Linked DNA regions of Homo sapiens: all the other regions are linked to region 1. The links come from fine-mapping of genetic effects on gene expression. A gene starts in region 1. Each other region holds a variant in brackets. All regions are shown on one strand. Distances are between the middles of the regions. Region 1 holds the start of SLC26A11 (solute carrier family 26 member 11). Region 2 overlaps SLC26A11 (solute carrier family 26 member 11). Region 3 overlaps RNF213 (ring finger protein 213).

The links. PIP is the estimated chance that this variant, and not a neighbour inherited with it, causes the effect. A credible set is the group of variants that fine-mapping cannot tell apart.
Region 2: its variant is the best candidate, but not a certain one, in a credible set for the expression of SLC26A11 in whole blood (TOPMed, PIP 0.60).
Region 3: its variant is the best candidate, but not a certain one, in a credible set for the expression of SLC26A11 in whole blood (TOPMed, PIP 0.86).

Annotation. Positions count from the first base shown.
Region 1 is chr17:80,217,384-80,222,677 of GRCh38, reverse strand. SLC26A11 (solute carrier family 26 member 11) reads right to left here and starts at 2,251. Exons shown (of 18, transcript NM_001166347.2): 1 at 2,182-2,251; 2 at 1,563-1,762; 3 at 884-1,130; 4 at 1-23. The coding sequence starts at 1,117. It overlaps SGSH (N-sulfoglucosamine sulfohydrolase), which reads left to right and starts at 2,345. Exons shown (of 8, transcript NM_000199.5): 1 at 2,345-2,452. The coding sequence starts at 2,365. RefSeq lists enhancers at 1-526, 3,184-3,303 and silencers at 2,024-2,093, 2,114-2,383.
Region 2 is chr17:80,250,000-80,255,293 of GRCh38, reverse strand. SLC26A11 (solute carrier family 26 member 11) reads right to left here. Exons shown (of 18, transcript NM_001166347.2): 17 at 3,893-3,965; 18 at 1,794-2,669. The coding sequence ends at 2,578. Among named protein-coding and RNA genes, the nearest start is that of RNF213, 8.2 kb to the left of the region's middle. RefSeq lists enhancers at 256-305, 336-385, 60-595, 1,069-1,785 and cis regulatory regions at 153-617, 97-633. The variant A/G (reference allele first, on the strand shown) is at 2,761.
Region 3 is chr17:80,309,833-80,315,126 of GRCh38, reverse strand. It overlaps RNF213 (ring finger protein 213), which reads right to left. Exons shown (of 68, transcript NM_001256071.3): 15 at 1,960-2,115. Among named protein-coding and RNA genes, the nearest start is that of RNF213, 52 kb to the right of the region's middle. The variant G/A (reference allele first, on the strand shown) is at 2,750.

The sequences.
Region 1 (5,294 bases):
ATGAAGGCAGAGTAGAGGCCATACTGTGGGGAGAGAGGGTGGTGAGCACTCAGGAGGCCGAGGCCCATCCACCAGCTCCCTAGTGTGCGTGTCCAAGCTCGGGATGTGTGGGTGTCAGCTGTGTCCAGGCCCAGGTTAAAGGTGCACCGCCCTGCCCTGTGGGTGGACCTGCAGTGATCAGGAGGCCACTTTTTTAGCAGCACTCAACTGGGGCCTCAGGGTGCAGACAGCCAGGCAGAGGGGTCGGTGCAGGCCCGTGTGCTGTGTCCAAGTCTGAGGAAGCATTCTTTTTTTTTTTTTTTGAGATGGAGTCTCGCTCTGTCGCCCAGGCTGGAGGGCAGTGGCACAGTCTCGGCTCACTGCAAGCTCCGCCTCCCGGGTTCACGCCATTCTCCTGCCTCAGCCTCCCAGGTAGCTGGGACTACAGGCACCCGCCACCACACCTGGCTAATTTTTTGTATTTTTAGTAGAGACGGGGTTTCACCCTGTTAGCCAGGATGGTCTCCATCTCCTGACCTTGCGATCCGCCTGCCTCGGCCTCCCAAAGTGCTGGGATTACAGGCTTGAGCCACCGCACCCAGCCTAATTTTTGTATTTTTAGTGGAGACGGGGTTTCACCATTTTGGTCGGGCTGGTCTTGAACTCCTGAGGCCTCCATGAGTCATCTCGCTGGCCCCTCCATAACCAGCTCAGTGTCTGTGTGTGCCAAACAGGCATAGGAGCCTGGGTCGGCCCAGAGACAATCTGCGTCACACACTGTAAACCAAAGGTTCCTTGGGGCCCAGGGGCTGGAAACCTGGAATCGCTGATGGTGTCTGGGATTGATACTGTGTATTCTGCACTGTTTCTGAGATATGGCTGGCAGCAGGGTCAGACGCCTCACCTGGGGCGGGAGTCCAGCCACTTCAGCATAGGCCAGCGCCTGGGGAATGGCAGTGAGGCCAACTGAGAGGCCGGCGACGAAATCCATCTTCAGCCACTGCAGGGAGTAGCTGGGCAGCCACGCCAGGATGGGCAGCCTCCTCTGCAGGGCCGCAGGGGAGCAGCAGCAGGCGCTCGGGGCCATCCCGGGGCCAGAGGACCTGGCCTGACCCAGCGCCGTCACCGAAGAAGGCATCTCTACGGTGGGGCTGGGGGGTGCAGGTGACACAGACCAGCAGTCAGAGCGTGGCCTTTGAAGAACCCGGCAACACTGGTCAGGGTCGGCGGGTGTCAGGAGAGGTCACTATGGGTCTCCCCTCCCCAGGGGGGCGAACGGCTCTAAGAGGAAGCCAACAATGTGTGCAAGATGGGGACTGGGCCAAGACTGGAAGGCCCACCCCGTCCCTCATCACCCTCTCTCCCTGAATCCCCCCCGTGCAAATCCTGGGTGCCTTCTGTCCCTCCATCCTCAACTCTCCCAGATAAGAAACTGATAAGCGATTCCTCATTGAGAAGTCTGAAGACTAATTAGGCTCAACACTTCTGGCCCCTGGAGAACCGACTTCCTTTGCCTTTTTTTCCGTCTCCCCAGGGAATTTAACGGGGAGCAGCGCAGAGAGAAGCTGGGCCCGCGGGCGCACCGTAGGCTGGCGGGGGGTGCGGGTGGCAGCCAGGAGATCCAGCGGGGCTCCGAGGTTTTCCAACTGCGCACCAAGGCGGGCTCCACCCGCTACGGTGGACTGCGGCGCTCGAGGGAGAGTGGGGGGGTCCTCCGCTCCTGAGGCCACGCCTCGCTCAGCCCCCACCTGTGGCTTTCACAGCCCTGGAGTTCTAGTTGCTTCTGGGAGGACATCAGAGGCGCCCGGTTAATTCAGGTGCGCAGCATCTTCCAGGGCCCCGGCGCCCGCGCGCAGAGCCGCCACCCTCACCCCCAGCCCCCCACGCCCCCGGCCGCTCCGCTCCGGGCAAAATCCACTCCCCGGCCCCCGGCCCCGCCCACAAGGCCGCTGGCTCCGGATCCTGGGGTCTCCGGAGGAGACCCTGCGCCACCTGACCGTCCGCGGTCCCTTGGCCCCGAGCAAGGCCGAGGGCCGCGGGGACCCGGGTAGGGACGCGGCGGGGGAGTGGTCCCCACGGGAGGCCCCCGCACTTCAGGACTCCGCGCTGGCCCCCGCGTCGGCTGCCCCCGGCGACCCCGGCCACTGTCCGCTCCCCCTGCCCCTGGTCCCCGCTCGCCGCCCTCGCGGGCCACGGACTCACCCACTCGGCGATGCAGCTTGGGGTCTCCTGGCGTCGCCGCAGCTGGGTCCGCAGGAATCGCCGGGGACAGGCCGGGGCGGGGTCTGGCGCGCACGTGACCGGGGTCGGGGCAGGGGGCGGGGCCGAGCGGGAGACCAGAGAGCCGGAGCCGGATCCCGATCCCGAGTCCGAGCCGCCGCCGCCATGAGCTGCCCCGTGCCCGCCTGCTGCGCGCTGCTGCTAGTCCTGGGGCTCTGCCGGGCGCGTCCCCGGAACGCACTGCTGCTCCTCGGTGAGTGCCGGCGCCGCCCCCCCACGCCCACCTGCGGTGGCCCGGGGAAGTGGCCACTGGCCTCCTCCCCACCCGTGGTCAATGCTGACCCTAGTGTGCCCTGCCCTTGTATCCCCCGCTGCCATTCCCTCTCGTCCTCCTCTCTGTGCCGCCCCCAGACTCTTCACGGGTGTCTCCCCAGAGAGGGCAGCAAAGGCTGGAGGAGTGAGCCCCAGCATCCAGCACCCCTACACTTACCTCGTGCCGCCTGTCCCACCCTCCTCTGACCCTGCCCAGCCAGGGCTCAGGGGTCCACGGATCTCAAATCCCTCTTGGGAGGGGATCCCAGAGGAGGGGCTGGTGCTCCGGTCCCCAGAGACTGCAGACAGGGTGCCCTCCTGGCTCTCATTTCCGACCCCAGAGCCTGTGTCTCAGCTGTCTTTTCCCTTATCCCAAGGGCACAGCCCTCCACCACCCACCCACCACCGTCTCCCCCAACCCCAGTCCCTCTCAGAAACCCCAGGTTCCTCCAGAGCAAGCACCGTGCTGCTCACAAGACTTCCGGTTTAGGTAATCAAGGCTCTGGCTCATGACAAGTGACAAGGCCAAACCCAAGGCCTGCGATTCTTTCCCCTTCTGAGGTCTGGCGCCCTGCCAGTTGCCCTCTTTCTGATTAATTTTGTGGTCTCTGGGCGGGGGTTCGGCTCACTGTAACATAAACAGCTCTCCTGCCAACTCCTCGCCTCCCAGAAACACAGCAGAGAATCTGCATGGACCCTCACCTGCGGATCAGAATTCCTACAGGAGGCTGTCAGAGTCCAGGCTATGCGGCCCCTGGGCTAGGGCCTTTCTTAGCACGGACTGCCATGGATCGGCTTAAACAGAAATGTATTTCTCACAGTTCTGTGGGCTGAAAATCCAAGGTCAGGGTGCCAGCTTGGTTGGGTTCCAGTGAGGGTCCACTTTCGGCTTACAGGTGGTCACCCTCTCACTGTTTCCTCACATGACAAGCGGATGGGGGTGGTCTCACTTCCTTTTCCTTTCTTTTTCCTTTCTTTCCTTTTTTTTTTTTTTTTTTTTTTTTTGTGAGACAGGGTCTCACTCTGTCACCCAGGCTGGAGCACAGTAGCACAATCACAGCTCACTGCAGCCTCAATCTCCCAGGCTCAAGCGATCCTCCTGCCTCAGCCTCCCAAGTAGCTGGGACCTCAAGTGCACATCACCATGCCTGGCTAATTTTTGTATTTTTTGTAGAGACAAGGTCTCACTGTGTTGCCCAGACTGGTCTCGAACTCCTGGGCTCAAGCAATCTTCCTGCCTTGGCCTCCCGGGTGCTGGGCTTACGGGCATGAAACACTGCACCCGGCCCTCTCTTTCTTTTCCTTTAAGTCCACAGTCCTGTCAGATCAGGATCTCATCCTTATGATTCATTTACCCTTAATTAAGGACCCTGTCTCCAGATACAGTGATGTTGACGTTAGGGCTTCAGCATATGAATTCTGGGAGGACACAGTTCAGACCATAGCAGGCCCACAGCCAAGTGCCGAGACACTCTGGGTTTGGAGAAGGGCAGCTTTCTTCCTGGCCTGCGGGTACGGAGCACAGCCCATCCCGCTCTCCCTCCAGGTTTACGTGGCTGCCATGTGCTCACACCTGTGGGTACTGTGGGGTGGAGGATGGAAGCCCAACTGGAAGGTGCCCAGCCTCCTCTGTCCATCCATGGACCACATTGCCTCTGAGGGAGCTGGGGAAAGTGTTGGTCTGGGGGTTCCCACCAGCCTCTCCTGTGGTGCCCCCAGTGTCCTCTACTCCAGAGCAGGGGGAAGAAGCTTGGTGTGGTTGTAGGAGTTCAGCGGCCTGTCCCTGTTTCCTGCTGCCCAGTGTGTGGCCCTGGGCACTGCACCTCACCTTTCTGGGCCTCAGCTGCTTTGTGTAGGATGAAAGGGTTGAAATAGACAACCTGCAAGGTCACTAGGCCTTTGAGATGGCATCAGTGAGAAGCAGCGGTGGGACGCACACACATAGAGCTTTAGACGCGCCCTGGGCGAGGCTCTCCTGCCCTCTGCCCCATGCGGTTTCCGCTGAGCCCAGAATTGCCCAGCAGTTCTGTGGCCATGCGCTCAGCCGCTGTCTGCCTAAATGCCTAGCCGGCTAACACGCCCACCCAGGTAGCATGCCTGCTGGGGTATCATCAAGCTTGTTGGGTCATCATGCCTGCATGAGTATCTTGCCCACTTGGGTACCATGCCTGCCTGCTAACATGCCTATGCAGGTACCAGGCTTGCCTGGGTACCATGCCCATCTGCTTATACCCACCAGCTATCAGTCCAGCCTGTGTACCATGCCCACCTGCCAACATACCCACCGGGTATCATGCCTGCTTAGGGTATCATCAAGCTTATTGTGGTATGATGCCTGCTTATCATGCCCACTTGGATACCATGCCTGCCTGCTAACATACCAACCACGCATCATCCCTGCTGGATACCAGTCTACCTGCTAACATACCCACTGGTATCAGGCCTGCCTGGGTACCATGCCTACCTGCTTATACCCACCATCTATCAGTCCAGCCTCCATACCATGCTCACCTGCCAACATACCCACCATCTATCAATCAGTCCAGCCTCCATACCATGCTCACCTGCCAACATACCCACTGGGTATCAGGCCTGCCTGGGCACCCTGCCTGCTTGCTGATATACCCACCAGGTATTGTGCCTACTAGGTACCATGCCTTCTTGCTAACATACCCAGTGGGTATGGGGTCTTCTGGATACATGCCTGCCTGCTAACATACCCACCAAGTATGAGACCTGCTAACATGCCCTCTGATACCATGCTTGCCTGATGTACCCACTCG
Region 2 (5,294 bases), 33 kb before region 1:
TAATTTTTGTATTTTTAGTAGAGACAGGGTTTCGCCATGTTGGCCAGACTGGTCTCAAACTCCTGACCTTAAGTGATCCACCAGCCTCGGCCTCCCAAAGTGCTGAGATAACAGGCGTGAGCTGCCACACCCGGCCTTCACCTCATTTCTTTTAACTGCTGCACAATATTCCACGGCATTATTCGTGTGTCCTACAGTCAAGATGTTACCGAATTCAGAGAAACTCAGGTTTCTTCCTACTTCTTAAAATTACTGACCAAGTTGTCACAAACGTCCTTGTGCCTGCTTCCTGGAAGGCTGACTCAAGCATGTTTGAGTAGATTCCGAGAAGCATAACTGCTGAGTCACAGGTGGTATGCAGATTTATGAAACTGATAGTGCCTAGTGCCCGCCACAGTCTGTTTACCTTCACCCATCCCTGTGAATGAACCATGTCTAGGTTCAAGCATGGATGCCCTTGGTATGTGAGTGCAAGCCAAATGTGAACTGCTGCCTCTTCCAGCCCTGGCAGGGGGGCCCAGTGAGCACAGCTTTGGGACAGGTTCACTTTATGTAGAAAGAGAAGCTGCCTGAGGTCAGAAACGACATGGATTGGAGGGCAGGGGTGAATGGTTCACTTGTGAATGAGAGAGGGCCAGGCATGGTGGCTCACACCTTAATTCCAGCACTTCAGGCTGAAGCTGGAGTATCACTTGAGCCCAGGAGTTTGAGACGAGCCTGGGAAACAAAGTGAGACCCTGTCTCTATAAAAACAATTAACAAATTAGCCTGGCGCGGTGGCATGTGTCTGTGGTCCCAGCCACACCAGAGGCTGAGGCAAGAGGATTGCTTGAGCCCAGGAGTTGAAGACCAGCCTGGGGAACACAGTGAGAAGAAAGGGGTGGAGGGAGGAAGAAAGGGAGAACGGGAAGAAAAAAATGAAAGGAAGGAAGAAAGGAAAGAAAAACGGAAGGAAGAAAGAAAAGGAAGGGAGCAAGGGAGGAAAGGAAGGAAGGAAGGAAAGAAAGGAAGGAAGGAAGGAAAGGAAGGGAAGGAAGGAAGGAAAGGAAGGAAGGAAAATGGGAGGAGGCAAGGGACCTGGAAGAGTGACGCGGATGAAGGACACTCCAATGTCCACTCCCGTGTCCAGTGGGGAGCCCCGCAGCCAGCAGCCCTGGTTACAGAGGCCCTCCCCTTGCTGCGCTGACATTGGCCGGGACTGCCCGGGCAGAACGGGCAGAACGAGGCTCAGTAGGGCAGGCCACATTCTTCTTGAAGAAAGTGCAGGGAGAACACACCTCTGAGGCTGCCACAGGCCTCCAGGGATTTACCCCCAGACTCAATCAAAGCATTCATAAAAATACAAACATGCAGGCAGTCCTCACCTGCTCAGGCCGCCGTCACAGATCACCCCAGGCTGCGGGGCCTAGCACAGAGATTCATCTTCTCCCAGTTTTGGAGGCTGGGGTCCTCATGAGGCCTTTCTTCCTGGTGGGCGCATGGCCTGGTTTTGCCGTGTCCTCTCATGGAGTTCCCTGGGGTGTGAGGGTGCAGAGAACGAGCTCTCTGGCGTCTCTTCTCACGAGGACACTAAAGCTATCGGTTCAGGGCCCACCTTTATGACCTTCATTAAACCTAGTTACCCCCTAAAAGCCCTGTTTCCAAACGCAGTCACATAGAGGGCAAGGGCTTCAACTGACACATCTAAAGGAGGCACGATCCCGTCTCTAACCCACGCACACGTTGAACAGAGGGCTCGGTAAGTCAATTATGATGCATATATAGACCAAAATACCACGCAGACATTAAAAATCTTGTATTCTAATGCTATTTATTATCACAATAAATAATTCACTGCAAATGACTGCATGAAAAATGTGGGTTCCAGAGCACCATGTATAAAATGATCCCATTTATGTAGAACTGTAAACATACATCCACACACTGACGGACAGGTACATATGCATGTTTGGGGAGGGGTCTGGAATGATCACCCAAGTGGACAGGGTGAGGGGTGGTTTCCTGTATTTTTTACAATAAGCATTTATGACTTTTACAAAATCACCAAAGCTATCACTTTTTCCATTTAGAAAACACAAAATTATTTTTAAATAGAGACTTGACGTCATTTGACACACCTTGGTTTTCTCTCGGAGAGCACAGATGCCGCAGACAAGAGGAGCGGACCCGCCTCCCAGACTCCTGCCTGCCCCGTCCCTCCCCCGCAGGTGGCACTGGTGAGCCGGGAAGGTGCTGCCAGCCCCAGGATGCCTCGCACAGCCCGGGCTGGAAACCCCTGCCCCTGCTTCCTCGCACAGTCTGTCATTCTAGAAGGCTCTCTCCAAACCACTCTTCCAAAGAGGGTCATGCCAGGGAACAGCAGCGAGGTCATTTTCCAGTCATCCCACAGGAAGCCAGTGAGCCCCACTCCCACTGCCGTGGACCTCCAGGCCTGGCTTCCTTCTCTTCCCTGGGTTACCTGCTCAGGGGTTTCTCAGCCAGGCCAGCATGTCTATCAGGCGGCATCCAGCATCCAATCACAGTGACAAGAACCTTCCGGAACACCCTGCAAACTGTGGATGCCCACGGGTGGCCCCATTATGCCTTGAGCAGGGCAACCTTTTGGTCCAGAATGGAGTCTTCTCTGATGTTGTAGGGCTGGGTCCCTGGCTCCTGCCTCAGGTGCTTCTCTGCAGAAAATACAATAAATGTTTCAAGCACTAAAAGCTCAGAAGTGAGGATGGGTCAGTTCACAGGAAGGGATTAAGGAGGGCCTTCCAG[A/G]GTCCTGGAAGGTGTGCAGGAAGGAGCTGTGGGCCACCCAGGCCAGTGTCACTAACTCCATGAGGGTCTCACCTGAGTCTCTGTAAGCGTATTTTTCAGGTGACTAACGGCCCTTTCTTACTGCTCCAGGGTACCCTCCCATCCCACGGCCAGGCCACATTCTGCTTATCCACCTCCAGTGCACTGCATCTGAGCTGATTCTACAACAACATGGGTGAATCTCCCTGACGTCACATTGAGCCAAGGAAGTCAGTACAACATCCGCCACCCCTCACTCTCACGGAGCTGACCCAGCTTCAGCTGTGACCTCAGTGGAAGAGGAAGAGGCCTAGCACTGGGGCCTGGGACCCTCTGGCCACTGCTGTGTGGCCTGGGGTGGATGCTCTGCATCTCTGGCCCATCCTCTTGTTGACACCTGCTGCGGCTCAGACCTCCTGCGATTGCTGTCTCAAGGGTCAGCGCCCACCCTGCTCCTGTCCCTCCCGTACCTTCTGTCCCGGGGCTTCTGGATCTCCTGACCCGGCCCTGCTCTGTCCTGATCCCCCGGGATGTGGACTTTCGGCTGGAAGGACATCCTTCCAACCTTCTGCATGAAAAATGTGGGTTCCAGAGCACCAGGTATGAAATGGTCCCATTTACGTAAAACCGCAAACATATATCCACATCCTGACAGGCAGGTACATATGCGTGTTTAGGGGAGGGGTATGGAGTGATCACCAAAGTGGACTGGGGTGGAGGTGGTTTCCTGTTTTTTTTGTTTTTTTTTTTTTTGAGACAGAGTCTCGCTCTCTCACCCAGGCTGGAGTGCAGTGGCACAATCTCGGCTCAGTACAACCTCTGCCTCCTGGGTTCAAGCGATTCTCCTGCTTCAGCCTCCCGAATAGCTGGGACTAGAGGTGCATGCCACCACACCCAGCTAATTTTTGTATTTTTAGTACTGATGAGGTTTTACCATGTTGGCCAGGCTGGTCTCGAACTCCTGACCTCAGGTGATCCACCTGCCTCGGCCTCCCAAAGTGCTGGGATTACAGGCATGAGCCACTGTGCCCAGCTGGTTTCCCATATTTTTTACAATAAGCATTTATGATTTTTACAAAATCACCAAAGCCACAGGATGTCTGACTGTGCCCACCTGCTTCTTCCAGGGTAGAGAAGTACTGGAACCCCTTCAGGTCAGCGGACAGCAGGACACGGAGAACGGGGACCTGAGAGACAGACAGACTTTAGCCAGGGCAGGGATGTTCCTCTGTAGCACACGGGTCGGCAGCCTGGTAGACCTGCCATCTCAGAGTCTCCCGGAGAGGTATGGCTTCACCTCCATACCAGTGAATGGTGAGAAGAAACGCAGCCCCAGGGGAATGCTGTCAGAGGAAGATTTTTTTTTTTTTAATTTTTTGTTTTTTGAGACAGGGTCTTGCTCATTGCTCAGGCTGGAGTGCAGTGGCACGATCATGGCTCACTGCAGCCTCAACCTCCCAGACTCAAGTGATCCTCCCACCTCAGCCTCCTGAGTAGCTACAGGTGCACGCCACCACGTCCAGCTATTTTTTCCTATTTTTTTGATGGGGTTTCGTCATGTTGCCCAGGCTGGTCTCAAACTCCTGGCCTCAAATGATCCTCCTACCTCGGCCTCCCAAAGTGCTGGGATTACAGGTGTGAGCCACAGCGCCTGGCCCAGAGGACTTTTTGTTTGTTTGTTTGTTTTTGAGATGGAGTTTCACTCTTGTTACCCAGGCTGGAGTGCAATGGCGCGATCTCGGCTCACTGCAACCTCTGCCTCCCGGGTTCAAGCGATTCTCCTGCCTCAGCCCCCTGAGCAGCTGGGATTACAGGCGTGCGCCACCATGCCCGTCTAATTTTTGTATTTTTAGTAGAGACGGAGTTTCACTATGTTGGCCAGGCTGGTCTCAAACCCTTGACCTCCCGCCTCGGCCTCTCAAAGTGCTGGGATTACAGGTGTGAGCCACCATGTCTGGGTCAGAGGAGTATTTTTTTAAGTGAATCATCTCCAAAGACCATGAAGACATGTGCTCTGCAAATATGACACAGGACGTAACACTTATGAGCGAAGTTCTGAAGGCACATGCCCAAATCTGAAGCCGGGCCCACCATCCTGTGTGACCGTGGGCAGATTACCTGGCTTCTCTGGGCCTCAGTGACCTCTTCTGGACATGGGGATGAAGATAACACTAGCCTCGTGGGCCAGGTTGGGAATGAAGGAAACTCTGACAAGGGTCGGCTGTGGTCCACACCTGGGGTATACGGGTCACTTGGCCTCCTGTTCCATGGCTAGTTCATGAATGTCTCCTCTGGGCGCCTGGGGACACGCCCTAGTCCCCCACGTTCTGCCATCTAGGACTTGGCAGAGAGCGCACATTTAACCACAGCAACAGAGACCCCTGCCTCTCTGCAAACACTGGCCACACCCCTGGGATGTTGACCCTGCAGTGCTCAGAAGGCTCCTAGGTGAGGCCTAAGACGCAGGGCCTGGGACCCAGCCCTTACACTTTACCTGTGGCTCTGAACAGGACGGC
Region 3 (5,294 bases), 92 kb before region 1:
CCTCCACCATCACCTTTACCACCATCACCTCCATTACCTCCACCATCACCTTCACCACCACCATCACCTCCATTACCTCCACCATCACCTTCACCACCACCATCACCTCCAGTACCTCCACCATCACCTTCACCACCACCATCACCTCCACCATCACCTACACGACCACCATCACCTCCAGTACCTCCACCAACACCTTCACCACCACCATCACCTCCAGTACCTCCACCATCACCTCCACCACCACCATCACCTCCATTACCTCCACCACCACCACCACCACCACCATCACCTCCATTACCTCCACCATCACCTTCACCACCACCATCACCTCCATTACCTCCACCACCACCACCATCACCTCCAGTACCTCCACCATCACCATCACCACCATCACCTCCATTACCTCCACCATCACCTCCAGTACCTCCACCACCACCACCACCACCACCTCCATTACCTCCACCATCACCTCCACGACCGCCATCACCTCCAGTACCTCCACCACCACCACCACCACCACCATCACCTCCATTACCTCCACCACCACCACCACCACCACCATCACCTCCATTACCTCCACCATCACCTTCACCACCACCATCACCTCCATTACCTCCACCACCACCACCATCACCTCCAGTACCTCCACCATCACCATCACCACCATCACCTCCATTACCTCCACCATCACCTCCAGTACCTCCACCACCACCACCACCACCACCTCCATTACCTCCACCATCACCTCCACGACCGCCATCACCTCCAGTACCTCCACCACCACCACCACCACCATCACCTCCATTACCTCCACCATCACGTCCACCACCATCACCTCCAGTACCTCCACCATCACCTTTACCACCATCACCTCCAGTACCTCCACCATCACCTTCACCACCACCATCACCTCCATTACCTCCACCATCACCTTCACCACCACCATCACCTCCACCATCACCTACACCACCACCATCACCTCCAGTACCTCCACCATCACCTTCACCACCACCATCACCTCCAGTACCTCCACCATCACCTCCACCACCACCATCACCTCCATTACCTCCACCACCTCCACCATCACCACCACCACCACCATCACCTCCATTACCTCCACCATCACCTTCACCACCACCATCACCTCCAGTACCTCCACCATCACCTCCACCACCACCATCACCTCCATTACCTCCACCACCTCCACCATCACCACCACCACCACCATCACCTCCAGTACCTCCACCATCACCTTCACCACCACCATCACCTCCAGTACCTCCACCATCACCTCCACCACCACCATCACCTCCATTACCTCCACCATCACCTTCACCACCACCATCACCTCCAGTACCTCCACCACCTCCACCACCAGCATCACCATTGTCACCTCCACCACCACCACCTCCATCACCACCATCCCCTTCACCACCACCATCACCTCCATTACCTCCACCATCACCTCCACAACCATCACCATCACCACCATCACCTCCACCACAATCACCATCACCTCCACCACCACCATCACCTCCACCACCTCCATGACCACCATCACCACCATCACCTCCATTACGTCCACCATCACCATCACCTTCACCACCATCACCTCTACCACCACCACCACCAACCATCACCATCACCTCCACCACCATCACCTCTACCACCACCACCACCAACCATCACCATCACCTCCACACCTCCATCACCACAGGGACTGTGCCCGGCCAGGGGACACGAGGCAGTGCAGCAGCACTTTGCACCCGGCATCTGTCTGCCTCAGAGCCACCCTGCCAGGTAGACAGGAGCAACTCCATTTTGTAGATGAAGAACTGAGGCTCAGGTGAAGGCCAACAACTGCCCCTGGCCAGCAGCCTGTACCCCATGATTTGAGGCCATGAGGAATCACGATCAGTCACATCCCTACCCAGAAGCCTTCGGCCAAATGCCTACCTCAATTTCCTTGACGTATGTGAATGAGGCACCTGAAGATGTGAGCATGTTCTTTGTAAAAACTTCTCGGAGCCACCTTTTCGTAGCAGCAAGGGTCCCTTGGAAGACTGTTTGGACTGAATTATTTCCAGTTTCATCTCTCTGTCCTGCAGAATCCTGTTGTCACACAAGAGGGAGGGTCAGTCATCCTCGGCTGTGGACTCAGGTTCCCGGCGAGATGCTGCACCCCCTCCTCTCCTCCCTGCTGGCACAGGCTGCTCAAGGAGTGGCTACGATGGAGGGACCACAGGCCTTGGCAGAAGCCCACATTCCCAAAGCACTTCCATTCCCCAGGGTTTTCTGGGTTCACCCTGAACGTGGGAGATACGGGAGAAAAGAGGGAGGGAGGGAACGGCATCTGTGTGCTCCCCCGAAAGCCCAGGCAGCCTCTGTCCTGCCAATGAGCAGGTCCCCAGGCTGTGCCCAGGAGACTGAGGGGGAAAAGCACGCCCCAGAGAGGGGCCCTGCAGACTCCCGGGCCTGTTCCTTAGACACAGGAGACAGCCAGGCTCCTGACCCGGAGGTAAACCTGGGTCCCCTTCCCACTGTGCTCCCATCATGCCCTCCCCCTGCCTCCATGCCAGACCACAGCCAGGCTCCTGACCCGGAGGTAAACCTGGGTCCCCTTCCCACTGTGCTCCCATCATGCCCTCCCCCTGCCTCCATGCCAGACCACAGCCAGGCTCCTGACCCGGAGGTAAACCTGGGTCCCCTTCCCACTGTGCTCCCATCATGCTCTCCCCCCGCCTCC[G/A]TGCCGGACCCACCAGACCAGAGGGAAAACCCCTCTTCCCCTGGGCTCAAAGCCTCCTGTAATGCCTCCCTTCTCTCCCCTGCCTTCCTCTTCCTCCCTCTCCTTCCTCCTCCCTCTGTCCTCCCCAGAAGCACATTTCCCAGGAAGCATACAGGTCAGGGGTCAGGGCCACCTCCTCCTGGGAGGAGCCCCACAGTCCTGGATTAATGTGTGGTCTTTTTCTTTTCTTTTTCTTTTTTTTCTTTTTTTTGAGACAGAGTCTCACTCTGTAACCCAGGCTGGAGTACAGTGGCGCGATCTTGGCTCACTGCAACCTCCACCTCCTGGGTTCAAGTGATCCTCCTGCTTCAGCCTCCCAAGTAGCTGGGATTACAAGTGCATGCCACCATACCTGGCTAATTTTTGTATTTTTTAGTAGAGACAGGGTTTCACCATGTTGGCCAGGCTGGTCTCGAACTCCTAACCTCTGGTTATCTGCCTGCTTTGGCCTTCCAAAGTGCTGGGATTACAGGTGTGAGCTACTACACCCAGCCAAGTGTGTGATCTTTTTTTTTAAGCACAGCCCCGCACATCGTGCAAGTGTCAGGAGCCACAGAACCTGGATACGCTCAGGTGCTCACTGGAAGCACCGAGAGGCCCACGCCTCGAGGCAGCTGGGCAAGAGGACAAGGCTGCTGCTGGGCGGGGCTGCCCGAGAGTGGGAGAGAGGAAAAGCCCACAGCAGGCAGGGGAACACAGCGTCACTATACCTGGGAAGGGCCAGGGCGGGAAGATACAGGCAGGAGCTTTCAAAGCATGTAAGAGGGACCAGGATGCAGGTGCTGCTGTGAAAGAGAGCCCGCAGAGGGGGCTGGGCACAGGAGTGACTAGAGCACAGCACGCAGGGGGCGGGGGCCGACAGAAAACGAAACAGGCACTGCTGAAGGTCCCCCCAATGGCACAGCTCCTTCTAGAACAATCCAGCAGCACAGGGCTGGACAGCGATGGCCAATAACAACAAACTGAATGACCGCTCAGAGGCTGCACAGACCTCCGGAGCCTGACACGGGCACCTTGTTCTCCAAGTGTCCGTCAACCCTGGAGCCTTCACAGCAGCAGACACCTAAAAGTTTCTTCAACATGCGTCACGTATTTTTGCTTTGTTTAATTTTAGTATTGCAAAGGTTTTTTGTTTGTTTGTTTGCTTTTATGGCACAGGTAGAGAGTATTTTGTCCATAATATGGATTAAACTTATCTGAGATCCCAGCCAACATTTAAGATAGTTATTTCTGTAGAAAATAAATCCTAAGTAACTGACAAATTCCTTAAACACAGTTTATGTGGAAGTTGGCAGCTGCCTGTGGCGGTTTAAATAGCAGCCACTCCAGAGAACGTGATCATCTCACCAATGACATTTATTCTTAAACTGTGTCTGTGGTACTTTAACACAAGAAAACTGAAAGGAAGAAAGTTAAAACATACACTTAATTGTTTTCTATCACTAACGTCACAGTTCTAACTTGAAGTAAGATTAAAAAAAATGATCAGCCGGGTGCAGTAGCTCATGCCTGTAATCCTAGCACTTTGGGAGGCTGAGGCAGGCGAATCACCTGAGGTCAGGAGTTCAAGGCCAGCCTGACCAACATGTAGAAATCCTGTCTCGACTAAAAATACAGAATTAGCTGGGTTTAGTGGCACATGCCTGTAATCCCAGCTACTCGGGAGGCTGAGGCAGGAGAATCACTTGAACCCAGGAGGCGGAGGTTGTGGTGAGCCGAGATCACGCCATTGCACTACAGCCTGGGCAACAAGAGTGAAACTCTGTCTCAAAAAAAAAAAAAATTGTGCTGGGTGCAGTGGCTCACATCGGCAATCCCAGCACTCTGGGAGGCCAAGGCAGGTGGATCACGTGAGGTCAGGCGTTTGAGACCAGCTTGGCCAACATGGTGAAACCCTGTCTCTACTAAAAATACAAAAATTAGCTGGGTGTGGTGGTGCACACCTGTAGTCCCAGCCACTTGGGAGGCTGAGGCAGGAGAATCACTTGAACCTAGGAGGCGGAGATTGCAGTGAGCTGAGATGGCGCCACTACACTCCAGCCTGGGCAACAAGAGCAAAACTCCATCTCAAAAAAACAAACAAATGATCAGTCTAAACATTAAACCTTACATCACTTTCAAACTGAAACTCATGAACTCAAGTGGGTGAAAACTGCACAGAGACGGGAAAGAAGGAATTGCCGATCTCTGCACCACACAGACAGAGCTCAGAGACATGGGGGTGAGTGGGGAAAGTCGGAGGCAGAAAGGTCAAAGCTGGAAGACAGGTAAAACTGATCCATGGGAGGCTGGGCGTGGTGGTTTAAGCCTGTAATCCCAGCACTTTGGAGGCCAAGGCAGGCGGATCATGAGGTCATGAGATCGAGACCATCCTGGCTAACACGGTGAAACCCCATCTCTACTAAAAATACAAAAATTAGCCAGGCGTGGTGGCAGGCGTCTGTAGTCCCAGCTACTTGGGAGGTTGAGACAGGAGAATGGCGTGAACCCAGGAGGCGGAGCTTGC